Regions from separate parts of the Homo sapiens genome. Here regions 1, 3 and 4 are each linked to region 2. Evidence: fine-mapped expression QTL. A gene starts in region 2. Each other region holds a variant in brackets. All regions are shown on one strand. Distances are between the middles of the regions.

Region 1 (7,407 bases), 32 kb before region 2:
TAAGTCAGGCATTCAGCTTGCAAAGATCCCCAAGCACACAAGGAGAGTCAGCTGACTGAGGGCCAACAGAAACAGCAGGCAGCCGCTGTCAGCCACAAAGAAACGCAGATCCTGAAACTGTCATCATACAGGTGAGAGGATAGTTATGTGTGAGGTGTTCAAAGAAGTCGCGCAGTCAGTGATGAGAAAGCTGTAGGGTACATACTGTCACGCATGAATAGGCAGGACTCCTTAAAGAACTTTTGGAAATGAAAAACAGGCCAGGTGCAGTGGTTCATGCCTATAATCCCAACACTTTGGGAGGCCTAAGGGGGAGGATCACTTGAGCCTAGGAGTTCAAGACCAGCCTAGGCAACATAGGGCTGGGCACGGTGGCTCACGCCTGTAATTCCAGCACTTTGGGAGGCTGAGGCAGTGGATCACCTGAGGTCAGGAGTTTGAGACCACCCTGGCCAACATGGCAAAACCCCATTTCTACTAAAAATACAAAATTAGCTGGGCATGGTGGCCCACACCTGTAATCCCAGCTACTCGGGCAGCTGAGGCAGGAGAATCCCTTGAACCTGGGAGGCAGAAGATGCAGTGAGCCGAGATCACGCCATTGCACTCCAGCCTGGGCAAAAAGAGCAAAACTCCATCTTAAAAAAATAAATAAATAAAGGAAAATGAGCCGAGTGATGGTCTTAGATATAAGATGGAATGGCAAGCAAATAAAATTATAAATATGAATACATATGTATATATAAAAGAATAGTGTCAACTAAAATACTAGACAACAATAGCATGTAAATTAGAAGGGACAGAAATGTTCTAAGACCCTCCGGTTGTTGGGAAGAGGGTGTAAGATAGTGTTTAATTTGACTTTGATAAGTTAAATGTGCATAGTGTAATTTAATGTTAATTACTAAAAGAGTGTAACCAGTCTATACATCTCTAATCCAATAAAAAGAATAAAACACTGTGATTTAAAATGTAGTCCCAGCTGCTTGGGAGACTGAGGCAGGAGGATCTCGGCTTGGATCCTCAGACCAGGAGTTTGAGGCAGCAGTGAGCTACGATTGTGCCGCTGCACTCCAGACTGGACAACACAGTGAGAGCCCATAAAATAAATAAATGAACTGAACACAAACTTCTGTCAATTAAAAAATAAGAACGAAATCAGGCTGGGCCTGAGCGCTGTGGCTCACACCTGTAATCCCAGCACTTTGGAGGCCAAGGTGGGTGGATCGCTTAAGCCCAGGAGTTCGAAACCAGCCTGGGCAACATAGGGAGAACCTGTCTCTACAAAAAATACAGTAAGTAAGCCTATAGTTCCAGCCACCCAGGAGGCTGAGGTGGGAGGATCACCTGAGCCTGGGAGCTCGAGACTGCAGTGAGCTGTAGTCATACCACTACACTCCAGCCTGGGCAAAAGAGTGAGACCCTCTCTCAAAAAAGAAAAAAAAATCAGAAACAAACTGGGCAAATTAAGATGGTGGAAACAAAACTAAATATGTCCCTAACGACAGTAAGCTGTATAGAATTGCCGGTTGACAGGTAAAGGTTAGGACTGGGTGCAGTGGCTCATGCCTGTAATCCCAGCACTTTGGGAGGCCGTGGTGGGTGGATCACCTGAGGTCAGGGGTTTGAGACCAGCCTGGCCAACATGGTGAAACCCCGTCTCTACTAAAAATACAAAAATCAGCCAGTTGTGGTGGTGCATGCCTGTAATCTCAGCTACTCGGGAGGCTGAGACAGGAGAATGGTTTGAACCTGGGAGGCGGAGGTTGCAGTGAGCCAAGATTGCGCCACTGCTCTCCAGCCTGTGTGACAGAGTGAGACTGTCATACACACAAACACACATAAAGATTAGGAGGAAAATCTGTGACCCAGAGTCACACACATGAAGACAGACAGGAGGGAGGCGTGAGTCAACCAGGGGAAGAAAGGCAAGCTCAGGTGCCATATGAAG[T/C]CCAGAACATTGTTTTAAAAAGGAAACTCAAAAATAATGATGGGCCAGGCATGGTCGCTCACCCCTGTAATCCCAACACTTCGGGAGGCAGAGACGGGCGGATCACTTGAAGTCAGGAGTTCGAGACCAGCCTGGCCAACATGACAAAACTCCATCTCTATTAATAATACAAAAATTAGCCAAGTGTGGTGGTCTGCGCCTGTAATCCCAGCTACTTGGGAGGTTGAGGCACGAGAATCGCTTGAACCTGGCAGGCAGATGCTGCAGTGAGCCGAGATTGCGCCACCGTACTCCAGCCTGGACTTCACTCAACCTGGGAGGCAGAGGTTGCAGTGAGCCAAGATCGCACCGCCAACTCCAGCCTGGGCGTTACTCAACCTGAGAGGCGGAGGCTGCACTGAGCCAAGATCACACCGCTGACTCCCAGCCTGGGTGTCACTCAGGCTCAGTGAGACTCCACCTCGAAAAAAATAAAAAAATAATAAAAATGTCTTAGAGATGGAAATGTAATGGGCAAAATTAAATTAGCAAGAAGGTGGAAAGTGGAGAAAATCTGTTTGAAAGAATGAAAAGACAAGAAGGTGGGTGACAGGATAGAAAGATTAAGACTAACAGGAATTCCAAGGAGGGGAAAACAAAAACAGAAAATGGTGGGAATGAAGTTATTAGAGAAATAATTTTCCCCCAGAACCGAGAAACATGAATCTCCAGAGTAAAAGCACCTACCGATATCTCGCACAAAGATGGAAGGAACGACCTACATCCAGGCATGACGTGAAACATCAGACAGTCCAGGACATAGAGACGATCTGAAAGCGCAGATCACACACACAGGCTGAGGAATAAATCCCTTCCCAAGGGCAGACTGGAAGTTAGAAAATGACAGAACAATGCTTCGAAAATTACAAGTGAAAATAATTTCCAACCTAGAACTTTATACCTACCCAAGTGGTCAGTCAAGTGTGACAGTATGACAACATTTTCAGATATGCAAACTCTTACTTTTAAAAATTCATTTTCAAAATACATGTTTTCAGGAGCCTACTAAAGGAGGAGCTCCAAATCAAGGGAGCAAACCAAGAAAGAGGAAGAAGGGGCTGGCCACTGTGCTGTAATCCCAGCACTTTGGGAGGCTGAGGCAGGTGGATCATGAGGTCAGGAGTTCGAGACCAGCCTGTCCAATATGGTGAAACCCCGCCTCTACTAAAAAATACAAAAATTAGCTGGGTGTGATGGCGCGTGTCTGTAGTCCCCACTACTCAGGAGGCTGAGGCAGGAGAATCGCTGGAACCCGGGAGGCGGAGGTTGCGGTGAGCCAAGATCACACCACTGCACTCCAGCCTGGTGACAAAGCAAGACTCCGTCTTAAAAAAAAAAAAAAAAGGAAGAAGTGGAATCTTGTAAATGGGGTTTCATAGAAAAAAAGTGGTGAGGGGCATCCCCACGTGACAACGGAGCCCCAGGGCTGGGCAGAGAGAGCCGCGTGTCCTGGGACCGTCCGATATTTCCCACAGTCCACTCTGGAGCCACAGTGACTTACTTTCCTTCCACAAGTGAAATATGCTCGCCACCCCCCACTCAAGCCACCCAGAGGTCTCTTCCTGCTGCTGTCTCAGCTCAGAGGCCGTCAGCTCATGATTCTCCTCTGGTCCGGATGTGTGTGAGATGCCTCTTGAGGCTATAAACTAAAGAAAAAATTACCTGCCTCGACCCCAGCACAGGATTTTGAGACAGGCCCAGGATAAGCACAATAACTCTCTCGTTTGAAAAAGAGAGCGGTGGGGGCTCATTCACTGCAGACCCCAGTCTGTAGTACTCTGTTGACTCAGTCAACAGCATGTTGCCAAGGGACCTCATTAAGGGGGCAGAGTCTGTGTCTTTTTTAGGGCCTCATTTTCCCTGGAAGTGACATTATTATCCTTTTTTTTTCCCTCAGATTTTGGCTCTGCCCTTGGTCTCTCTCCTCTGTGTTTTTAGATGTCCGATAGCCTGTATTTGAGGCTAAGCAGCTTTCTTAGCTGCTTACTGCCTGTAGAAGGAGGGAACCCAAAGGCTTCATTTTCAGCTGTTTCCATCTCTGTTCATTTAAACTGACACAATGCCCTTAAAAATCTGGTGGGTTTCGGGCCGGGCGCGGTGGCTCACGCCTGTATCCCAGCACTCTGTGAGGCCAAGGTGGGTGGCTCACGAGGTCAAGAGATTGAGACCATCCTGGCCAACATGGTGAAACCCCGTCCCTGATAAAAATGACAAAATTTAGCTGGGTGTGGTGGTACGCACCTGTAGTCCCCGCTACTCAGGAGGCTGAGGCAGGAGAATCACTTGAACCCAGGAGGCAGAGGTTGCAGTGAGCCGAGATCGCGCCACTGCCCTCTAGCCTGGCAGAAGAGCGAGACTCCATCTCAAAAAAACAAACAAACAAAATCTTGTGGGTTTCTTAGATTATATTCTCCACTAGACAAAAAATATACTTAAACATTTGTCAGTGTTTTCTCTGTTTCATATGATGTGTTAGCATGTTGTGGGAAAACATCCTTTAGGGTCTTAGAAACACTTTTGTCTAGCTGAGAGGATTTGTACTATATACTATCTTCCAGCATATATATATATATATATATATATATATATATATATATATATATATTTTTTTTTTTTTTTTTTTTTTTTTTTTTTTTTTTTTAGAGACAGGCTCTTGCTCTGTTACTCAGGCTAGAGTGCAGTGGTGCAATCAGTTCACAGCAGCCTTGAACTCCTGGCCTCCCACCTCGGCCTCCCAAAGGGCGGGGATTACAGGTGTGAGCCACCACACCCAGCCCCAACATGGTAAACTTTTCTGGGGCCTTAACAATGGATATGGCCACAACCTTGATTTTATCTTTATCCTGAGGCCACTTACTACTTGAATTCTTTGCAGGCAGTGGTGATACACCCTACAGTCCCAACTGATCAGGATGCTGAGGCAGGAGGATCCCTTGAGCAATATAGGGAGATCTTGTCTCTAAAAAATAAAAGTAAATTTAAAACAACTTTTGAAAGAAAATGCTTTGCTGACTGCAGAGACAAGATGTGAGATGGTTTTGTTTCCCAAGCCAGTTCAGGCCCCGGCTCTGTGTCCTCCAGATTCCGCCTGCAGACTAGACGATCCCTCCTTTCACACATTTCATGCTCGCAGGCCTCACCAGTGCCACGAGGAGCGTTCCGCTGACATTTTTGCCACTCTGTCTGGAGCTCTGCTTAGCTGGGTCCATTTTCTAATTTCCAAGTTACTGAAGGCAATTTTTTTTTTTTTTTTTTTTTTGAGACAGAGCCTGGTTCTGTTTCTCAGGCTGGAGTGCAGTGGTGCGATCTCGGCTTACTGCAGCCTCTGCCTCCCGGGTTCAATTGATTCTCCTGTCTCAGCCTCCTGAGCAGCTGGGATTACAGGTGCCCGCCACCACGCCCGGCTAATTTTTGTAGTTTTAGTAGAGACAGGGTTTTGCCATGTTGGCCAGGCTGGTCTTGAACTCTTGACCTCAGGTGATCCACCCACCTTGGCCTCCCAAAGTGCTGGGATTAGAGGCACAGGCCACAGCACCCGCCCAAAGGCAATTTTTTTCACCCAAATTTTTCACTACTACCTAATCATGGTTTCTTCTGCTAATAGTCTCCTCCCCGTGTTTCTGTTCTCCAGCCCCAGACTGCACTCGCAGTCAGTGCACTGCGTCTTAGGTGTTGCTTCTGCCAACAGCTGTCTTAGACGAGGTGGCTCTGCCAACACCTGTCTTAGACGAGGTGGCTCTGCCGGCACCTGTCTTAGACGAGGTTGCTGTGTCAAAATTCCACAGACCGACTGGCTTCACAGCAGACATTTCTTTCTCCCAGCTCTGCAGGCTGGGAGTCCAGCCTCCAGGTGCCACAGACCCAGTTCCTGTTGAGGGACCACCCCCAGCTTACGGACAGCAGCCTCTTGCTCATGTGACCGTCCCGTGTGTGCTCCTGGAGAGGAGGCTCCGGTGTCTCTTCCCATGAGGGCACTCATCTCATCGTGAGGGTCCCCCAGGATCTTCTCTAAACCTGCTCCCCTCCCAAAGGCCCCACCTCCAACACTGTCTTGCTGGGGGTGAGGACTTTAACATGTGAACTGGAGGTGAGGGACAAGTATCCAGTCCACAGCAACCCCAACTCTGGGACCCAGTTTCTCTACTGGCACTTGCTGAGTAACCACCCACCCAGACGCCTGGTGGCTCACAGCTGCAGGGACACGGTGCTTCTGTGGCCGCAGGCGTGAGGACCCGGGTCCTGGCCTCCCTGGGGCCTGTTCCTCGGCTGTGCCCGGTTACTCAGGGCTGCTCTGGTCCTGCCTCCCCAAGGAGAGCCCTTGTGAGGTCACAGGTGCAGAAGGAAGCCCGTCCGATGCAGACGGATGTTCCAGCCAGGCGGAGAGGAGAAAATCAGTACCTAAAGCATCTGACAGAAAAGGAAAAAAAAATCCAAAATAAACCATTTAGAATAGACTCAGAGGACATAACACACCTGGGACTGACTTACATGATATTTAGGAAAGATGTGTAAGATTTCTACATGTAAACTGAGAGATGGGATGTTATTATTACAAATTTTCCTAAGCCAGGGTCACCCATGCTGGAGGGCCGTGGTACAATCACAGCTCACTGCAGCCTCAACCTCCCGGGCTCATCCTCCAACCTCAGCCCCACGGGTAGCTTGAGACTACAGGCGCGCACCACCATGCCCAGCTAATTTTGGGGGTTTTTGTTTGCTTGTTTTGGGAGAGACAGGGTCTCATTATGTTGCCCAGGCTGTTGAGATGGAACATTACTCACAAACATGTAAAAACTCAAACGATGGCGGGTCTGCCCATTCATGGATGGAACAGGGGGTGTCAACATGTAAAAACTCAAACAACGGTGGGTGCCTGTTCGTGGATGGAGCAGGGGGTGTCAACATGTAAAAACTCAAACAACGGCGGGCGTGCCTGTTCGTGGATGGAACAGGGGGTGTCGGGAAGGCGTCAGGGCTCCCGGTTGCTGTCAGTCGCCCGTGAGACCCGAGCAGCAGTCGCTCTGTTCTTGTGATCATGGCTGAGTGGGATCCAGTGTGAGTCTCCACCCGGCCTGTTACCCAGTTCCAGCTGCAGGGCCTGGGCGCCCTTTTCCGCCTGGGCAGCAGTGAATGAAGTTGCTCTAAGTCCCTTGCTGCTCTTGGTGCACTTAAGAGAGGGCTCGCAGGCCACAGGATAACAGGAGAGGCTGAGTGCGCGGCATCCTCCATCATGGAAACGCATCTCGCACCAGCACACGCAGCTGGCTTTTCCACTACTTTTGCCCGTCGATGGCACCACCCAGCTTTTCTCTGGGTGGGACAGGTATCTGTCCACCTGGGGTTTCTACTCTGCATGTTTTATCTTTTTTTTTTTTTTTTTCCTGAGATGGAGTTTCACTCGTCGCCCAGGCTGGAGG
Region 2 (5,106 bases):
AAGGCAACGTGCCTCTCCCAGGCTCTAGGGCCTCTCCCCAGATGGGTCCCTTCAGAGCCGGTCTAGAATCTTCGGGAACCTCTCCATGGGACCATTTCATTTGCTAAATAAAGGACCTGGCTGCTTATGAGAGAGCCCTGCCTCCGAGGAGCTGGGTGGAAGGGGGTCCAGCAGTGCAGCCAGTGGAGAGGCACCACAGCAGGGCGCAGGACCGCCGCCCACAGAGGATCGGGCAGGGTGGAAGGGTGGAAGAGGCAGGGCGGGGTGGAGGAGGCGGGGCAGGGAGGGGAGGCCCTGAAGCCAGAAGCCTCAGGGGTTTTCAGGGAAGGGCTCCTTTTGTAAGGCACTAACACAGTGAGGCTCCACAGGGCTCCCTGCCAAGGTCCCCCTCCCCAGGGCGCCCCCTTCTGGCAAGCCCAGCTCTGGAGATTGGGGGGGTGTTGGAGGGGGTGGGGGGACACAGCCAGCGTGGCGGCTACAGCCCATCCTAACTCTCCAGGCCAGTCATCATCTATCCATTGAGGCAAGCCCAAGCCTGCCCTGAACCAGCACTGCGCTGGGTCCTGCGGATGCAGATCACCAAAACCCATACGAAGGGCTCAACTGAACCTAGATTCTGAGATGGGCCTGGGAGAAGAGGAGCGAGATGGGGCGTGGCTGGCAGGCAGTGGGCAGGCTCGGTCAGCAGGGCTGCGGGAAGAGCAAGTCCAGCACCCAGGATGGCCAGTGCAAAGGCCTCAGTGGGAGAGGCTTTGGCGAGAGGGTGGGAGCACCATCAGGATGGGGGAGAGTGAGATGGGCACACCTTCTGAGCCTCCCCCAGACGCACAAGGACAGAAGGTTCCAGATCACACCCCCACCTGCCAGAGCCAGGAGACCTGCACGTGACCCCAGCCAGGTAGTGCTGTTGGGGGCCTGGTGGGCCTGGTCGGCTGGGATGAGTGTCCTCAGAGCAACAGGAAGTCTCTGAAGGGTCTGAGAGGGGAAAGCATGTGCAACAGACATTTCTGAAAGGGCCTTTCTGGCTGTTTCTGCAGAGGAGGGAATGGGCAAGGTTAGAAGACGTAGAGACGGAGCTGATAAAGTAGGGAGAAGTTAACGGGCTCAAGAACCTTCCAGGGTGGAGCCGGGCGTGGTGGCTCACGCCTGTGATCCCAGCACTTTGGGAGGCTGAGGCAGGCTCAGGAGCTCAAGGCCAGCCTGGCCAACATGGCGAAAGTACAAAAAAACTAGCTGGCAGATGCTGCAGGCAGCTGGAGTCTGGAGGGAGACTCGGGGAGAGGGGGGTTCTGCTGACTCTGCAGAGCTTTTCCACGTCAGGTGAGACCAGCCTCACCTTTCTTACAGGTTTTAGGAGTTCAAGAGAGCCCACCAGCCCTGATACAGCATGTCTAGGGTGGGGCTGGTAGGAGGCTGCACCACTAAGTGCCCTGAAGGATGCAAACCTAGACAACGCCTTCTTAGAGAATAAGGGAAGATGGATCATGTCGGGTGTGAGAAAATGGGAAACCACGTGTATCTCGGAACTAACTGATAGGAGCCAGGCGCGGTGACTCACGCCTGTAATACCAGCACTTTGGGAGGCCGAGGCGGGCGGATCACTTGAGGCCAGGAGTTCGAGACCCGCCTGGCCAACATGGCAAAACCCCCGTCTCTACTAAAAATACAAAAATTAGCTAGGCGTGGTGGCGGGTGCCTGTAATCCCAGCTACTCAAGGAGGCTGAAGCAGGAGAATCACTTGAACCCAGGAGGCAGAGGTTGCAGTGAGTTGAAATTGCACCACTGCACTCCAGCCTGGGTGACAGGGCAAGATTTTGTCTCAAATAATAATAATAAAAATAAAAATAAAGAACTGACAGTGACCCTGACTGCCAAGTCCTTCACAAAGCCTCTAGGGTAGTCACATCACCAGTCTCATTTCACAGATGAAGACACTGAGGTGAAACAACCTGCCGGCCAGCGGCCAGGCAGGGCTGCACCACTGGGTGTGCGCTCAAGCCCAACTGAGGGCTGCACATTGTAGTGACATTCTTTCACCCCTGCAGAGACCAGGGCACCAAGCACCACCATCAGACACAAGCTGGCTTTCAAAGCCAGAGACCTTGCTCCAAACCCACCTGTCCACCTGGGCGACTGCAGCTCAGCAGCACTTTTTGGAAAGCACCTACCTGCCTGTGCACCCTCGGAGAGATGTGCCTCAATGCAGGGCCCACAGCCAGCCCCAGCTCCAAGCGCAGGCCAGAACTCCCTCCTCCCAAGACACCCTGCCCCATCTGGGGCTCTCTTTGGGTCCCAAGCTCCTGCAGGCAGACAGGACATTTCTGCAGCATGGCCTTAGGCAGCTGTGCAGGCCCTCAGCTGTGAATGGGTATGCTGATAGCGCACCACCAGGTCACAGAGACATGCCACGCTGGAAGCACTAAGTGAATGATGATAAACCGCGAGACCTGGCGGGAACTCCTGCAGGATCTCCCACGCACCAGTGAGGCTGTCAACTCTCCAGCTCTTCGGAAACTCCAGCATTTCATGCGCAGAGACCCATCCCCATGCGGCTACCCCAGGCCCAGTATGCGCCGGCAGGGCTTCTCACATGTCCTCCAGGAAAGCGCCTGGGACCACCAACGGCCACCAGGGCCACTGGATCCATGCGGCTTGTGCCTGGTGATGTAGATATGACAGTGAGCGCCCGCCGCCATGCAGAATCGGTCCTGGAGACAACCCGGGAACCGACTCCAGGAAAGAGCGGGTCTCAGAAGACCATGCACAGCAACATAAGCTTTTTATAAAGTACCTAACCAAACCCTACAGTGTTGAGGCCCAGGCACAGCTACACAAATGATGAAACCACAAGCGGAAAAAAAGAGGGGAGATTTCCCCAAATAGGGTTGGTGGGGTGGTGCCTGGGGAAGCAAGGGCGACGTCATGGGGGGGCCTGTACACCCCGGGCAGGAGGCGGGCCGGTCACACCGCGGCACGCATGCTCTCCTGGCCCGACTTTTGGGAAAACCGGAAGCAGGGCAAGGCCGTCCCACGAGGCCTGCCACTCCCCTTTCTGGACCTACCCAAGCCCGGTGCTCAGGGCCCTCGCCGCCTGCTCACTGGGACACCTTACCTGGCTCCACTGCCCTTCTGCGTCCTGCGCGAGCCCGGGACACCCCGGGAGGCCGGGCGGCGGGGGACCTCCCCGAGCAGCGTCAGAGCCGCCCGGAGCCGCAGCAGCCGCACCACGCGCATCTGCCAGCCTCCGGGAAAGAGCGACAAGCTGGGCCCCGCCCCAGCGGCCAGCCCCGCCCCGCCCCCAGCGGCCAGCCCCGCCCCCGAGCGCGGCCTCCGCCCCCAGCGGCGCTCATCCCAAGGCTGGGCGGTCTAAGCCTGCACGGGGCTGCGGCAGCAGGACCACTGACTGTCCTGCCGGCCTCCCCCTGGTTTCCCTGCCTTCGTGGTCCAGCGCCCCTTCACGCTGGGCGGGGACCCAGATCCAAACCCAGTCCCACTGACCTCTGCAGCACAGGGCTGGCTGTCAGGATGCCCCACAGGTCACACGACCAGGCCAGTGAACTCCTGCCCAGGGCTTGCACACAGCTCTCTCCCAGAGCCTCTGAGGGCAGGGGCACCTAGCAGGTCCTTCCTAAGTACACGCTCTGCTGCTCTGGAGAAGGGACCACACAGGCTCAGATGGCCCCCTACCTCATCCCCTACAAACAGCAGCACTTCCAGGACGCAGAAACCGGCAGAAGCACCTGCTGTCCAGCCCACAGCAGCCCCTCAGAGGTGGTGCCTCTGGACAAAGGTCACAGGAAGTCCTGCGAAATCATCCCTGCCAACCAGCCTCTCACTCCCAAGGAGACCAGAGACCAGGCACAGCTGGAGCCTCCTTCCTGCGCTCAGTCCCCAGCGTGACTGCTGACCCTGACCAGGGTTTAACCCCAGTGTCTTCACTGGGGAGCATGGCCAAGGGGCAAAACCTCTAGATCAGCACTTGGCGGTAGGCCCTGAGCCACAACAGGCCACACCGCTCACCTCTGGCAGCACCGCAGCCTTGGTCTTCCCCGGTAAAACCCTGACACCAGGACCGTGGGAAGCAGATGAATTCACATGCATTCCGCACTTTCACTGTGACCGTTGGGGGGAATGCAGTGGACACAGGCAGGAAAGGAGTCCGGGCTGCCACCGCACGCCCTCAGCGACCCTCCCCTGCCACCAACTGACTCAGTGTCCATGTCATCTAGCTGCTGGAAGCCATGGGCAGAGGCCGAGGGCTGCAATTGCTCGCTCTTAGGGCCCAGGCAGACCTGGTAGGTGTCCCATCATTTCAGAATGAGCAGCTCAGCAGCTGAAGGTACACACACACCAGGACACAGCAGCTGACTCTCCAGGTGGGCCACCTCCTCCCAGGGGCTGCGGAACAGTGATGCATATTTTTTCAGGTAACCCTTTCTACAAACCAGAAGAGGGCCTTGGCCCAGGCCCACCATTCCTTCAACGGAATCCTGAGGTCAATGTGTTTTCCAGTTCAGGTTTCTAAGGGTTTTTGATTTTTTGTTTTTTACTTTTTGTAGAGATGGGGTCTCCCTATGTTGCCCCGGCTGGTCTCGAACTCCTGGGCTCAAGTACCTTGGCCTCCCAAAGTGCTGGGATTTCAGGTGTGAGCCGATGCCCAGTTGGTTCCTCAGGTTTTGTAAGAGGGAGTGTGGCAGGACAAAAACCCTAAGATTTCTCAATAGATGCAGAAAAAGCAGCAGACAAATCCAGCACCATTTCATGATAAACAGAATGGAAAACCCACTCAAGAACAGAATAGAAAGAAACTTAACCTGAAAAGCAGCATCTACAAAACCCCGCAGCTAACCTCATATGCCAGAAGAAAGACTGGACGCTCCTGCTGAAATGAAGAATAAGACGAGGATGTCCACTCTCACCACTGCCTCTCAACATGGTACCAGAGGCTCTAACTGAGCAAACAGGCAAGCAGATGAAATAAGACACCCAGATCAGAAAGAAAGAAGTAAATTATGTCTATTTGCAGGTGGCATAATCTTGTATATAGAAAATCCCAAAGAATCCACAAAAATTGGCCGAGCACCGTAGCTCATGCCTGTAATCCA
Region 3 (6,590 bases), 90 kb after region 2:
TTTATACACACAGGCCCAGCCACCTACGGGCAGGCGAGGCCTCCTGGAGGCCCGGCGGGCTCTTCCCCCTCCCTCCCCGCCCTTTTCCTCTCCCGATTTCCTGGCCACCCTCTGGCTTAGTCTGCAATTCATCTTCCCGTCTCTCTTCCCATACCTGAGCCTCGTGCCGCCCGGGATTGCGGCGCCCGCGCCACCACGCTGGGGTAATGGTCCCAGCACCGCTGCCCTGCGTCCTGCCGCGCCCCAGCCCGCGCGTCTCACACACCGCGACTGCGTGTCTACAGGTGCCGCCTCTTGACGCCTCTGCTGCACCGCCAGTGCCCCGCTCGGCAAAGCACAGCCCCTCCCCAGCACTGCAGCAAATGGGCAGGAGACCCCCGCCCGGCCGGGGGAGCAGGGGCAACGGCAGGGCCCCAGTAGAGAGGGTGGAGCTGGAGCCGAGGCCGGGCCAGGCGCCTGCGGGGCCTAACGCTTCTGAGACAGGCGAGCCGTGCTCCGTGCTCCGTGCTCCGGGACGAAGGGGGCTGTGGGGTCGGCAGAGGGCTTCCCGTGAGGAGGAGCACACCAGGAGTGCTGAGGCCGGGGGTGGGAGGCGGGCAGATCCCTCAGGAGGGTGGGCTGGAGGGCCGGGACAGCCATGGGCGGCTTCTGTGCGGAGGGGCAGCCTTGGGGTTGAAGAGAGGAGACCAGAGGCTGCAGGGAGAAGCTGGGGATGGGTGGGGTGGGCCCAGCCAGGGCCCCTGTGTTTGAAACTCCCTTGTCGCAGAGGAGCCGTGGGCTACGCCCCTCCCCCAGGGCATCAGCTCCCCTGGGGCATCTGTACCAAGAGCTGGGCAGAGGCGGCGGCTGGAGAGGGGCCACCCAGGGCATGTGGCTTCCCGGAGGACATGGCTTGTCCCTGAGACCCACCCCTCTGGGGGAGGTGACCAGACACCTGGGTCCCAGCCAGGAGACGGGAGCAAGGGTGCTGCAGGAGAAGGGACTCCGGGACCCTCCTTCCTAGAGAAGCCAGAGTCCCCTAGAGTCCCGCGGGGCCCCGCCAGCAGCCTGGGACTCTTCTGTGCCCAGCACCCTGCCTGCACGCTCACTGCTGCTCCCAGGCTGCTCCGGGGAGGCGATCAAGGCCCATGGGGCTGGCGCCTGGCATGTTCCAGATACCTCCCTGTGTCAGCCTCTGAGGACTGGGTGGGAGGGAGGCAAAGGGGCCATCCCCTGCGAGCTAGACCACGCTGAGTGGGTGCCGGGAGGTGCAGTGGAGTCGGGGAGGCCCCAGGGCGGAGCCCGCCACATGGGAGGGAGGGGCTGGGCCACAGACGCAAGTCAGGGGCCAAGGTGGCTCTGTCTGGGAAGGCGGTGGCCTGAATGTGGAGAGGAATTATCCTCCAGGCTGGAACTGATCCCAGCTGCCCTCAGGACACCTAACTCGGGTGCCAGGGGTCAAGGGCACTGGAGTCCCAGAGGCCGGCATGGAAGAGGTGGCAAGGCTCAGGGGAATGCCAGGGTTGAAAGGGGCAGCAAGGGCTGCGGCTGAGGGGCTTCAGGCCTGGTGGGCTGCTGTTGGGGGGCACCCCACCTTGCTGCTCTCCACAGCCAGGTTGGGGTGCCTGGGGGGGCGGGCCGGACCTGAAGGCCACAGGCCTCCTCCTGCGCCTACCCCTCCTGCAACCCCCACAGCCTCCCCCGCCGACCCCTTCATGCCCCCCCGCCCCCCTGCCCGGCGCTCCTCCCCGGCCGCGGGCTAATTGGCTGTGACAGCTGGAGCCCTGGGCAGCTGAGCGGTGTCACTGCAAATTAGGCAGGCGCTGAGCCCGCCAGCCGCAAATTCCTCTGTCACTGCTCCCCATGCGGACTGCCGACTGTGTGTGGGGGTCGAGGGTGTGGGCTCCAAGCCACTCCCACCTTCCTGCCACCTCCTGATTCGGGGTACACTCCCTTCCCCCATCCCCCACCTCCTCCGCCTCCCAGGTGAGGAAGCGGTTTCCCCTCCTCCTGGGCCAGCCTCCCGCCTCAGACCCTCTCCCAGGCCCTGCCTCCTCCCCCACAACTTCCGAGTCCTCTGAGCACCGGTCCCACTTCCCGGGCCCTGGCTGGCCCTGCCCCGCCAGTCTCCCCTGCCACCCCAGACTCCCTAATTCAGGGTCCCTCGGCCGCCACCCTCTCCCTGGGAGCCCGGGGATCCAAATGCCTCCTCTCAGGGACCCTGGAGGGTACTCCTGTCTGAGCTGCCTGCCCCCACCTCGAGACCCCCTAGGAGCCAGGCTCAGCCAAGACCCCGCAGGCCTCCACCCTCCCCGGCTCAGCCCACAGCCTCGGGCTCTCCCTGCTGACCCACATGCTGCACCCCCAAAGTCCACCCCGTGCTGCCCCTCCCCGTGCACCCTCAGGGATTACACCATCAAGGTCGAACACAGAACCTGCATCCACCTCACGCCCCGACTTTCCACGCGCCTCCCAGCTCCTATCAGGAAAGGTCTCCCCCAGGTCCGTCCCATCCACGCTCTCCGGGACCATCTGGGCCCTCGCCCTGGTCTCAGCCTTTGCTGCCCCCGACAACCTGCCAGGACCCTCAGCCTTAGGGAGGTGGGCCCCTGTGAGGGTGGGGCCAGGCTGGGCTTGAATCTGGGACAGCGGGGGCACTCAGGCCCTGCCCCGCACCCTTGCTGGGCCTCCCCAGCCCTCGGCTGGACTCCGTGGCCAGGAACTGCTGAGCAGGCACCCAGGCCCAGGGACGGCAGAGGTATGGCTGCTTCAGCCATGAGGGCAGCGGGGAGGAGTCGGGGCTGGGCAAGGGAAAGCATGGACCCCACAGGGCTGGTGGCCCTTTCCTGTCCTGCAAATGTCAGCCCATCACCTCTGTGTCTGACTCAGAGCCCCGGAGTATCTGCTTTCCAGAGTGGCTGGCAGGTGGGGAGACCAAGGCCCCCTGGGGAGAAGGCCAGGCTCTTCCTGACACCCGCCCTGTTCCACGTCCCCAGGCCCTGGGCCAGGGATGGCTTTGCCCTTCCTCCAGGCCCAAGGTAGGGGTGTTGGGTCCCCAGGCTCCCAACCATACCCAGTGGCAGGTCACAGCACTGGCCCTGGGCCAGGACCCTTGGTGACGCTGTGACCTGCACAGGCCTATCTGTCGGACAGGCCCCTTCAGGGCCCTCCAGGGCTGAGCCAAGTCCCTGCTGAGCAATTGGAGCCTTCAGCCCCCCACGATTGGCTGGGCTGGTTAGTGATGGTTCCAACCAGAGGGTGGCTGGGTCTTGCACCCCACATCCATCCCTGGAAGAGGGCGTGACCCTAGGGAGCCTTCAGCACCTGGCAGTGGAGGATGAGGCTTCCATCCTGGAGGGCATCTGGGCCCCTCACGGTGGCTCCAAGGACCAGGGCTGGGAGAGAGGTGGCAAGGAGAGGCCAAGGCAGCCAGGGCAGGGCAGGGCCAGGACCCCTCCTCCCGGACAGGGTGGGCTGGGCTGAACCGAGCAGACAGTGGCTGAGGACCGCACTTCACTGGAGAGGCCCATGTCAGAGCCCACTGTGGCCAGGCGGGACTCAGCATGGAGGACCGGCCCAGACAAAACCATGGGGTTGGTTTGCGTATAGGGCCGGTGGGTCCACATGCATGTGTCTGGGTGTAACTCCACCCTCATGTGTGCCAGCCAGGTGCACGCGTGTGTGTACGCAGGGCCACAAGTGTGTCTGCTGTTGTGTC[C/T]CCGGGTGGGTAGAGTCTGCTCCCACATTCTGGGCTGTGTGTATGTGTGTGTGCCCGTGCATGTGTGCACGTGCCACAGCGTACCCACCCTTGTGCTGGGGCTGGGGCAGAGGACACTTCCGCTTTGTCCTGGCCCTCATCTCAGAGCCGGCTCTATAGGAGGCTGGGGGGGCCCTGCCGACAGCCACCACTGTGACGTACTGGGGGGCAGTGGGGGGAGGAAACAGGGCCACACTTGGCCCAGCGCCTGGGAATGGCAGAGGAAGGAGGGAAGGCCCTGGCCTTCTCCTGTGAGCACCCCCAGCCCAAGCCCTGTGCGTGGCTGACGGGGGCTTAAGGCAGGAGACCAGTGACCATCCAGGTGGGCTGTCGGGCCCAGGCGAGCGTGTGTGTGGGGGGTACAGATGGGCTGTCGGGCACGGGCGAGTGTGCGCGTGGGGGGGTCCAGGTGGGCTGTCGGGCACAGACGTGTGTGTGCGTGGGGTCCAGGTGGGCTGCGGGCACAGACGTGTGTGTGCGTGGGGTCCAGGTGGGCTGTCGGGCACAGGCGAGTGTGGGGGGAGTGCAGCCAGTGCTCCTGCTCGTGTGTCCAGTGTGTGCCATGGGTGTCCACCCAGGCCCAGGGCCTTAACCCCGGCCCCTTCAGCCTCTCCCTGCTGTCTGGGAAGACACAGCTCCCATTGGTGGGAGATGGGACACAACTCCTGGGGCCACATATCTGAGCTGCCCCAGGAACACTAGGTCCTCACGCTGCACCCTGTTCAAGGCAGCCTCAGGCCCCAGCCTCCCCTCTCCCAGGGCTCACGCGGGGGCCGAGTGTCACATGCAGGACACTCCAGTTGGTGTCTCCCTCCGGAGCTCTTGGGCCAGGGCTGTCACCTGGGTCCCTGCTGTGGGCCCCCAGTGGGCAGTAGGGTGGGTAGGGTGGTTGCCAGCGTGTGTGGGAGACAAGCTCTGCCCTCTGGGCCCAGGCAGCCTCCTCCAGGAAGGCAGAGGATGGCACCTTCGAAGTGCCAGGAGTCCCTGCCTGCCTGCTCTGGTTCTGGGTGACGGTGGCGGGGGCAGGGGGCACCCAGGCCAGGCACCATCACTGACCTCTGGGGACATCCAGGTGGGGGTGGGGGTGAGGTCAGCTGCTCTTCCAGGATGGGTCAGGGGCTAGGGTCCCAGGAGCTGAGCGGCGGATGCTGTGGTCGCCCCTTCCAGGGGCCCTCCAGCTCCCCTCAGCCCCAAGCACCTTGGTGCTGCCTTGCACACAAGGGACACACATGCTCACGACTGCCGTTGGCACTCCAGCTCTGCTGCCCTCCAGGGCTCCAGGCCCAGTGAGGAGGAGCTGAGGGATCTAATTCTCCGATTCCTTGCTGGCCACACAACCTCCCTCAGCCAGGAACCCCAGAGCTGCCCACCCTCCCCCGCTGCCGGCTCCAGCCAGGTCTGGCTGCAGCAGCCCCTCCTGAAGGGTCACACTGGTCCCAGGGACTCCCTCGGGGCAAACTGAGGCCTCCAGCCAGCCCTGCCAGCTGTACAGAGTCTGGGTCAGGTGTGTGCCGCTGGTCCAGGCCTGTGCTGTGTGGGTGGGCACGGGTGCAACTGAAGCCAAAGGTGCTTTCCACACATGGCCATCTTCCCGCGGGGGCTCACGGAGCCCCCAAAATGGTTTTCAATAAAGCTCTGTCTCGGAACACAGGAATAAGAAGTCCCCTGCCCGCAGGGGTCCCCGCGTCCCGGTGCTCACCTGCCTGCTCCACCTTGTGTGTGGCGGAAAGCAGGGGGACAGACGAAAGAGAGAAAGAGAAAGGGGAGAGAAAACAGAAAACAGGAAAGTGAACTGACTCCAGCAGCAGCAGCTGCTAAGGTCCCACAGCTCGGGCCCGGCCATGCTGCGGAGAAAGCTGGATCCGGTGGCAGCCCCGGCACGTGCCGCAGTGGGGTTCCTCTGAGTCCCAAACCCAGCAAGCCTCCAGCAGCGCCCGCAGGCCCCGTGCACCAGGAAGCCCAGTTCTGGCCCCTGAGTGCAGGGCTCCCAGACGCCTGGGGTGGGGGTAGGGAGCAGGGAGGGTGACACAGCTCCCTGCCCGCCGCTCCCACCCCAAAAAGGCCGCCTCTGATCCAGGCTGCCAGAAGTCGCTGGGTCCTGTACTTTCTCGGCCAGGGAAAGGCTCTGTGCAAAGGGCTCCTGGGGGCGGCGATGGTGAAAACTAAGGTGTCCCATGTCCTCTGCTCTTTACAACTTCGGACTATGAAAAACGAGCCAGCAGATTCCCGTCCAAGAATGTGCCCAAGGCTCCCCGCCCCTCCTTGGGGAGAGATGGCCTGTGTAAGCGAAGGCCCGGGCCGGGCGGCTGAGCCACCCGTGGCTGCCTGGAACCCGCCTGTCCCTGCCGGCGTAGTCTTTTCAACTCCATCTTCCGCCCCACATTTCTGTAATTCCCACCAGCATTCTCCTCCACAGAGATGCCTTCACGGCCAGCTCCCCTGCTGGGATTCTGCTTGAACTCCCGCAGAGACCCAAAAGCAAAGGGGGAGGCGGCAGGGACTGACGGAGGACTCGCCTTCCTCTCTTCCTCCAGGTCTCTCCGCTTGAAACGATAAAACAAACTCAGGAGACTCACTCACAGAGGATTCCGTCCCGTCCCCAGAAAGAACCTCCGCTTACCCCCGATGGAAAAGCAGCACAGCCCCCTCCCAAGAAAGGCGAGTTTGGAAGCCCTTGCAGGCCAGAAGCCCTCTCTCCAAATTTGCAAACCACGGACCCTCGCCTGCCTCTCTTCCGGCAGTGAAGGGAGGGAACCATCAACGACGTGTCCTGCAGCCGCCCTGGGCCCTGTGAACTGAGATTTCTGGGGTACTGCCTCCTCCCCTGTGCTCCCAGTCCATGCCCAGCCAGCCG
Region 4 (7,628 bases), 72 kb before region 2:
ACCCTGACCACTGTAGCAACAAATGACAAATGTTCAGAATATGTGCAGCATTCATAGGAACCAGGATTTTTAAAGACAAATATCTAAATAGAAAAATGGCCAAAACAGGAGTTCAAGACCAGCCTGAACAACGCAGCGAGACCCCATCTCTAGAAAAAAGAAAAATGGGCAAAAGTCGCAGAAGAAAAAAACATCCATGGCTCGTAAATACCTGAAAACATGCTCAATCTCTTTAAAAATCAGAGAACACAAGTTAAAACAACAGATCCAATTCTGTGCCCCACAGCGTGGTAAAGATGGCCAGGTCGGATTCGGATCCTTGCATGGGACGGGCGGGGGTCCTCATCTCCTGCTGCGGCACCAGGCAGCAGCACAGTCTGGAGAGCAGCCTGGCGTTTTCTGGCAAAGGCGAAGATGTGCGTTCCTGCTGACCCAGGAGCCGCCTGTTGACTTCCCCTTGAGAAACGTGTGTGCACGCAGCCAGAGACACAACAACGTTCATGGCATGCACTGTCAGGAAAGCCGGAAAGAACCCAAATGCCTGTCGGTAGCGAAGCGGGTAAATCATGGTCTGTTGGTCAAGGGAAGCTGTTGGCACAGTGGCCACGCAGCTAGCCAGGACCCACGTCAACCCCTACGTGACAGACACACACTGAGCAGAGAATGTAAGGCACAGAAGACACACGGCGTGATTTTAACCACCGCAAAGTTCGAAACCAAGCAAAACTACACAGTGTGGTGGTTGGGGACACATGTGGTCCAACTGCAGAGAAAGGCAAAGGCATGGTTCACACTCAGGAGAGACGGGCCGGCACAGGGCACGGGCCCCTGGGTGGTATCTCGCGCTTAAACCGGATGGAGGGTGAGTGAGCATTTGCTCTAGCGCGGTTAAAGGATCATGTCATGTACACTCAGCTTACACATCTGACACCCTCCCACCTTCCTTAACGTTTTTAGAAAACAGGGAGCACTTCCTCATGAACCTGGTGCCATCCAGCCCTGGGGTGCACGGGTTAACGCCCACTTCCACGCCCCCCACTGATCTTGAGGCCCCCCCGCCCCCAACCCTGGCCTCCGTTGCCCACAGGTGCCTGTTTCCACTCAACCCAAATTTAAGCCATCTTCTTGCTTTCAGAGTGTGGTCTTTACCAACAGAGGAACCGGGTAATCACCGCACTTCTCATGTATTCAGAAGATATTTCTCATCCTTTTCAGGCTGGTAGAGCAGATCACCCCCAAAGCAAGAAGTTCCAGATGAAATATGCATAAGAAGCAGCCTCAAAACTAACAAAAAAGATTCGCACATTCCTCAGTTAGAGGAGGAGCAGAGATGAAGAAAAGGAGAAGAAAAGCGCTGGAAAGAGAAGAAAAGGAACCTCCTTCTGTGCAGCAGGCTCCTGGCCCAGGGAGTGCGGTGTGCGGCAGAGTGCGTGCAGGGAAGCAGCCTCTGAAATCGTGCAGGGAAGCACCCTGTGAAATCGTGCAGGGAAGCACCCTGTGAAATCGTGCAGGGAAGCACCCTGTGAAGTCGTGCAGGGAAGCACCCTCTGAAATCGTGCAGGGAAGCACCCTCTGAAATCGTGCAGGGAAGCACCCTGTGAAGTCGTGCAGGGAAGCACCTTCTGAAATCGTGCAGGGAAGCACCCTCTGAAATCGTGCAGGGAAGCACCCTCTGAAATGCCTAGAAATAGCTGCCGGGCTTTCACTTGGTTCCCAAATTTCTTCAAAGGTCAAAACCATCACAGTGGGCAACTTTACACCCCAGTGTTCACTGTCCTCAGGCCACTGCAGAGCCATCCTAGTGGGGCAGTGGGCGCGGGGCGGGGGCTCCTGACTCCGGTGAGGTCACCCTGGAGGGGAGTCCCAGGAATCAGCCTGATGTTCAGAATGCCTTCCTGGCATCTCAGAAGTGTACTGGGGGAGACGTGAGGACCTTTCAGCCAAGTGTCAGCGTTCTTATTGCAGGAGAACATTAAAGCCACAACCCAGAAACTTCTCAGGAGCATGGCGCACCCACACCAGCCCCGGGCTCCGCCTGGACAGCACCTCCTGGGCCGCCCTGACCAGCAGACACCATCCTTCCAGCCTCTCTTGGCCACCCGGACCAGCGGGCACCACCCTCCCAGCCTCACGCGGCCACCCTGACCAGCAGGCACCATCCTTCCAGCCTTGCTCAGTCACCCTGACCCAGAGGGCTGCCCTGACCAGCGGGCACCATCCTCCCAGCCCCACTCAGCTGCCCTGACCAGCGGGCACCATCCTCCCAGCCTCACTCGGCCAGCCGAGCTCTGTAGGCCTCAGAGTGCAGAGAACCTCAAATGTTGTGACTTTGCTCTGCTGCAGGGACCTGCCATGGAGTGTCCCTTGTGCGAGCATTTTGAGAGCTATGCCAGCATCCATCCCTGCAGGTCCCATCCCTGAGCCATTTCTCAGGAGAGCAGGAAGGGAGCAGGGAGAGGGGTGCTCCCAGCCAGCCCCGGAACCAGAGGTCTGGGGACGCAGCCGACCAGCCCTCCTTGTCTGGGCCTCTGTTTCCTCTTCGACACAGGGAAGCAGGGAGGGGCCGATCAGCGACTTAGGCCTGTTGGCTGTGGTGGGGTCCACCTGCGTTTCTGGGGAGCCCACGGACCCTGGGGTGTACCTGGGTTTCATTCCCAGTGACCTCTCCTATTGGTCCCCATTTGGGGCGCTGAGATGTGATCGTTTCTTTCCTGAGAATGAGCTGAGGTAAAAACATGCTGGGGAGGAAGATGGGCCCTGGGGGCAGCGAGCTGCGCCTCTGCACCGGGAGAAAGGCCGTGTCCCCAGAGCTGAGGCGGTGGTGGGCAGGGCTCCTGAGAAGCCGGGGCAGGGCAGGGTGTCTCTGAGGTCAATGAGGAACAGCTGAGGTCCAGGGACGCAGGAAGGATGGGGTGAACTCCGGGATGGGGCCGGCAGGGAGCCTCACGCTTACAGAGCCTGGTGTTGGCACTCTCCTGGCTTCCTCCGCAAACCTAGCCACGTGGTCAGGGAGCCCGGGCCTAGCAGACGGCCCCCACCTTGACAGAATCCCCAGGGTCGTGCGTGGCGGTGGGGGCGACTTCACAGCCGAGACCGGGCCTAACGCTGCTGTCTCGCAGTCACCCCTGCAGGCCGCTCAGGGCAGGGCTCTGGCCTGACGGGGGTTCCTGGACACGCCTCTGAGCCGGCAGCCCCTACCCGCACCCGTGCACCTTCCACGCCCGTCTCCAGCAGCCCCTGCCCCCACCCGCACCCCTGCACCTGCCACGCCTGTCTCCGGCAGCCCCTGCCCGCACCCGCACCCCTGCACCTGCCACGCCCGTCTCCGGCAGCACCTGCCACGCCCGTCTCCGGCAGCACCTGCCACGCCCGTCTCCGGCAGCACCTGCCACGCCCGTCTCCGGCAGCCCCTGCCCGCACCCGCACCCCTGCACCTGCCACGCCCGTCTCCGGCAGCCCCTGCCTGCACCCGCACCCCTCACGGCTGTCTCCGGCAGCCCCTGCCCGCGCCCGCACCTCTGCACCTCCCACGCCCCTCTCCGGCAGCCCCTGCCCACACCCGCACCCCTGCACCTCCCACGCCCGTCTTGCCCTGGGGCCCAGGTGCAGGTCTGTGAGGAGGGCAGCCCCGTGCTCCCGTGGCCACCGCTCAGCCAA[A/G]TGGATTCAGCGAGGGTTTTTAGTGTTTGTGCCTGTGTCCCCGTGTGCCTGTTTCCTGGTGAGGCTGGATGCCTGGCATGTCTGAACACTCACATTCCCCAGGCATGCATGTGCAGCCGCCGCCGCCACCCATGTACTGTGGCGCTGACCCCTCCTGTAACAGCTGTGGTCTTGGCCTCTCGTGTTGGTGGCAGATGTCCCATTTCCCAGTTACTTTCTGTTGTCCAAAAGTTTAACTGTCCTGCCAGCCAAAGCTGCTGAGCATTACTCTGATAGACCATCAGTCCTTGGTAAGTGTCCTGTGCATCTGGGATAAGCATCCGTTTGTTTTCAGCTGCGCTTTCTGTGACTTGCTCTGCGTGAGTCCTCGGTCCACGTGGGCCGTTGCGCTGGTTCCCAGCCTGCCCGACACACTCACTGCGACGCCTCCCTTGCCTACTGCTTGCTGGCTTCTGTGTTCTCTGCAGTAAACATTGATTTCTGACTCGAGTGCTGTCTTCATTGAGCTCTCTGCACTCTGGGGATGCAGTCAGCGACCCCACGAAGGCTACCGGCTTCCTCCCAGGGAACAGTGCAGGTGCTGCTTCCCAGGACCACAGGACCCTGGCTGGTCGCTGCCTGTGATGGGTCTCCACAAGACCACTCCCCATTAGCCAGACTCACAGGAGACTGACACATAAATGAGAAAGTTGTTCACTAACTCACAATGGGAGCAACCCTTTGCAGTGCGGAAATGCTCTCAGCCTTTCTGGCCCCGGATACCTGGGAAGCTAAGGGTTCATTAGGTGGCCTAGTGCCTGCACTCAGGATGCCCCAGAGGAGGCCCCGGGGTTCCTGAACGCCTTCTTCAGGCCCTGTCTTCAGCCCTTCTCCAGGCCCTCTGAGTTCCAAACAGCACTCACTTTTGTCTGGTCCTCTGTTCCCCGGCTCGCACCTCCTTCGTCAGGGCAGTTGCTCTCAACCAGGGGTACTTCTGCCCCTGGGGCCCACTCGGCAATGTCCGGGACCGTGTTGGCGGTCACAGCTGGGCGGGGGCACCACCGGAATCTGGTGTGCAGAGGCGGGGGTCCTGCCCAGATGCCAGAGGTGCTGCAGGTGAGAGATACAGATTTAGACCCTGTGACGACAAAGAAAAGGACGGGAAAGGTGGCTCTCAAGGCCCCAGGGAACCGCCCAGAGACGCCTGGGGTTCCAGAAGCTGGAAAGGCATGGAGCGGTGCGGGAACAAGCCTCTGCGGTGGCTGGAGATGTGGGGATGGAGACTGGTCATGCCTTCACACACTTAACCAGAACCCTCCCAGCTCTCCCTCCCCTGCAACCAAGCCAGCAAGGCGACACGGTGGCTGGCGCTGGCGAGAGGCAAGTGTGCTTGACTGCCTTTCTCCACTCTTGAGGACAACACCCAGAGTGGCCCCGTCTTTGCCCCACCAGCCCAGGCCTAAAGCTTCCTCATCATCCGCATCCCGGCCTGGGACTTAGGCGGACTTCTGCCAGCTGTGTCACGTGCAGGGGACTGCAGCCACTGACCCCCTCTCCCTTCTGTCCTGCTCTTCTCTACCCCACAGCCCCAGGCAGATCTTCAGTGCATGTCAGCTCTCCTCCCTCCCTCCCTGCAGACCCCTGTGCCCCGCAGTGCCCTGAGAATGACGTCTGAGCCCCCAGTGGAGGTGTCAAGGCTGTTCGGTCTGTCCCCATCCCGTTCTGTCCTCCCCTTGCTCACCACACTCCCCTGCCTGGTCTTCCAAACTCGAACCCCAGGCAACTCCTTCAGGCATCAGACCTCTGCCCCTGCGCCCCTCCTGCCTCTCTGTGATGGGCTGGCCCTTCCCTTCTGCTGCCTCCCCTCCCTCCTTCCTGCTCCAACCCCTATCTCTCTCTGATGCTGCCCCTTAGAGAAGCCTTCTTGGACCTTAAGCCTGGCCACTCCTCTAAGCCCCTCATCTCCAGGTGTGGTCTAGGAAGTGCTCTCAGCCTCTCTACTCCAGTGGCTCGGGGTCTCTGACCAGCCCTCCTGCCAGGGAAGCTTTGAAGGTTCCCACAGGGACCCCTAGAGACAAGGGCACTGCCCGTCCAGATGGCACCCTCACCCCAACCCCAGCAGCACTGGCTGGAGCAGGCCATGCCTGTGTGGGTATCTGAACAGGCACTGGATTCCCCGATCTCAACAAAAGAAGCCCATGGAGGCCTTTTCTAATCCACAGTCCAAGAGGACAAATCAAGACAACAGGCTGGGGGGGCTGGCTGTGGGCCGACTCCCACGTCTTAGGACCAGGGGCTCTGGGGCTGTTTGGGCTGGAACCCCTCCTCCCAGCATAACAAACACTAGCTCATTATTTACAGTGAATACCCAACAAAACCCTGCTCGAGGTGAGGAGCGGGGACCTGCTGCTCCAACAGACCAGACTGGCTGCTGGCTCCGAGCTCATTAAATCAGCAACCTTTGCACTCCCTCCAAAGCCCTGCCCGTCACCTTCACACCTCCCTGGTGGGGGAAGGGGATTCTTCCACTCTGATTACACCCGTTCCCATCTCCCTTCACTCCTGTGAGCTGGCCAGGCTGAGGATTTGTCCAAAGGGCCTGGGGAGTGAGACGCTCCACAGCTTCTCATGGGTCAGCCGACATGGACGGTAGCTTGGGTGACTCAGCTTCCCGTGATGCGCTGGATGCACAGGGAGCTGGTGACAACAGCCTGTGTGTGTGACAGAACAGCCTGTGCGTGTGACAGGACGTCAAGAACTACATACAAAGACACAGCTGCCCCCAAAAATGAGTCTGCACAGCCTGGTGCAATGCAGCTGCAGCCTGTCATCGAGTCAATTGCATTGTCGTCCGCCGCTCTCCTGATGTAGTTCTGTGTTTGTCCATTTTGCACTGCTATAAAGGAATACCTGAGACTGGGTAAGTTGGTGAGCGCCTGTAGTCCCAGCTACTCAGGACGGTGAGGCAGGAGAATAGCATGAATCCGGGAGGCGGAGCTTGCAGTGAGCCAAGATCGCGCCACTGCACTCCAGCCTGGGCCACAGAGCGAGACTCCGTCTCAAAAAAAAAAAAAAGAAAAGAAAAAAGAGGAGCTGGGCGCAGTGGCTCACGCCTGTAATCCCAGCACTTTGGGAAGCTGAGGCGGGTGGATCACCTGAGGTCAGGAGTTCAAGACCAGCCTGGCCAACATGGCAAAACCCCGTCTCTACTAAAAATACAAAATTATCCGGGCATGGTGGCGCATGCCTGTGATCCCAGCTACTTGGGAGGCTGAGGCAGGAGAATCACTTAAACCTGGGAGGCGGAGATTGCAGTGAGCCGAGATCGCACCAATTGCACTCCAGCCTGGGCAACAAGAGCGGCAACTCCATCTCAAAAGTAAATAAAGAACAAAAGGGGTTTGCTTGGCTCACAGTTCAGATCAGCGTTCAGAGGGTGCTGCTGTCCCTGGTCATACTGTACAAGAAGAGGCTTCTGGGGAGGGCTCAGGAAGCTTTTACTCACAGCAGAAGGCAAAGTGGGAGCCAGGGCATCCGTCACTTGGTAAGAGCCAGAGCAAGAGAGGGGCGGAGGCGCCAGGCTCTTTTTAACAGCCAGCTCTCACTCATCACCAAGGAGAGGGCACCAAGCTACTCATGACCCAAATAGCCTCCCACCAGGTCCCACCGCCACCATCAGGGGCCACATTTCCATGAGATGTGCAGGGGGCTCACTTCCAAACAGTATCAGATATAGTACTAGTTCCTTTTTTTTTTTTTTTTTTTTGAGACAGAGTCTCATTCTGTTGCCCAGGCTGGAGTGAAGTGGCGCGATCTCGGCGCAATGCAACCTCCGCCTCCCGGTTCAAGTGATTCTCCTGCCTCAGCCTCCCAAGTAGCTGGGATTACAGGTGCCCGCCACCGTGTCCGGGTAGCTTTTTTATATTTTTAGTAGAGATGGGGTTTCTCCCTGTTGGTCAGGCTGGTCTCAAACTCCCCACCTCTGGTGATCC

The links. PIP is the estimated chance that this variant, and not a neighbour inherited with it, causes the effect.
Region 1: its variant is the best candidate, but not a certain one, in a credible set for the expression of TOP1MT in whole blood (TOPMed, PIP 0.88).
Region 3: its variant is the best candidate, but not a certain one, in a credible set for the expression of TOP1MT in whole blood (INTERVAL, PIP 0.82).
Region 4: its variant is the best candidate, but not a certain one, in a credible set for the expression of TOP1MT in subcutaneous fat (GTEx, PIP 0.51).

What each region holds. Positions count from the first base shown.
Region 1 is chr8:143,298,519-143,305,925 of GRCh38, forward strand. ZNF696 (zinc finger protein 696) reads left to right here. Exons shown (of 3, transcript NM_030895.3): 3 at 1-1,434. It overlaps LOC124902037 (a long non-coding RNA gene), which reads right to left and starts at 4,561. Exons shown (of 3, transcript XR_007061139.1): 1 at 4,232-4,561; 2 at 3,492-3,636; 3 at 2,867-3,315. The variant T/C (reference allele first, on the strand shown) is at 1,952.
Region 2 is chr8:143,331,627-143,336,732 of GRCh38, forward strand. It overlaps TOP1MT (DNA topoisomerase I mitochondrial), which reads right to left and starts at 3,254. Exons shown (of 14, transcript NM_052963.3): 1 at 3,114-3,254. The coding sequence starts at 3,235. RefSeq lists enhancers at 269-802, 2,478-3,162, 2,702-2,751 and a silencer at 2,952-3,411.
Region 3 is chr8:143,421,089-143,427,678 of GRCh38, forward strand. No RefSeq gene overlaps it. Among named protein-coding and RNA genes, the nearest start is that of MAFA, 6.3 kb to the right of the region's middle. RefSeq lists enhancers at 1,405-1,992, 5,400-5,489. The variant C/T (reference allele first, on the strand shown) is at 3,698.
Region 4 is chr8:143,258,560-143,266,187 of GRCh38, forward strand. It overlaps ZFP41 (ZFP41 zinc finger protein), which reads left to right. Exons shown (of 3, transcript NM_173832.6): 3 at 1,216-4,146. Among named protein-coding and RNA genes, the nearest start is that of GLI4, 5.1 kb to the right of the region's middle. The variant A/G (reference allele first, on the strand shown) is at 3,658.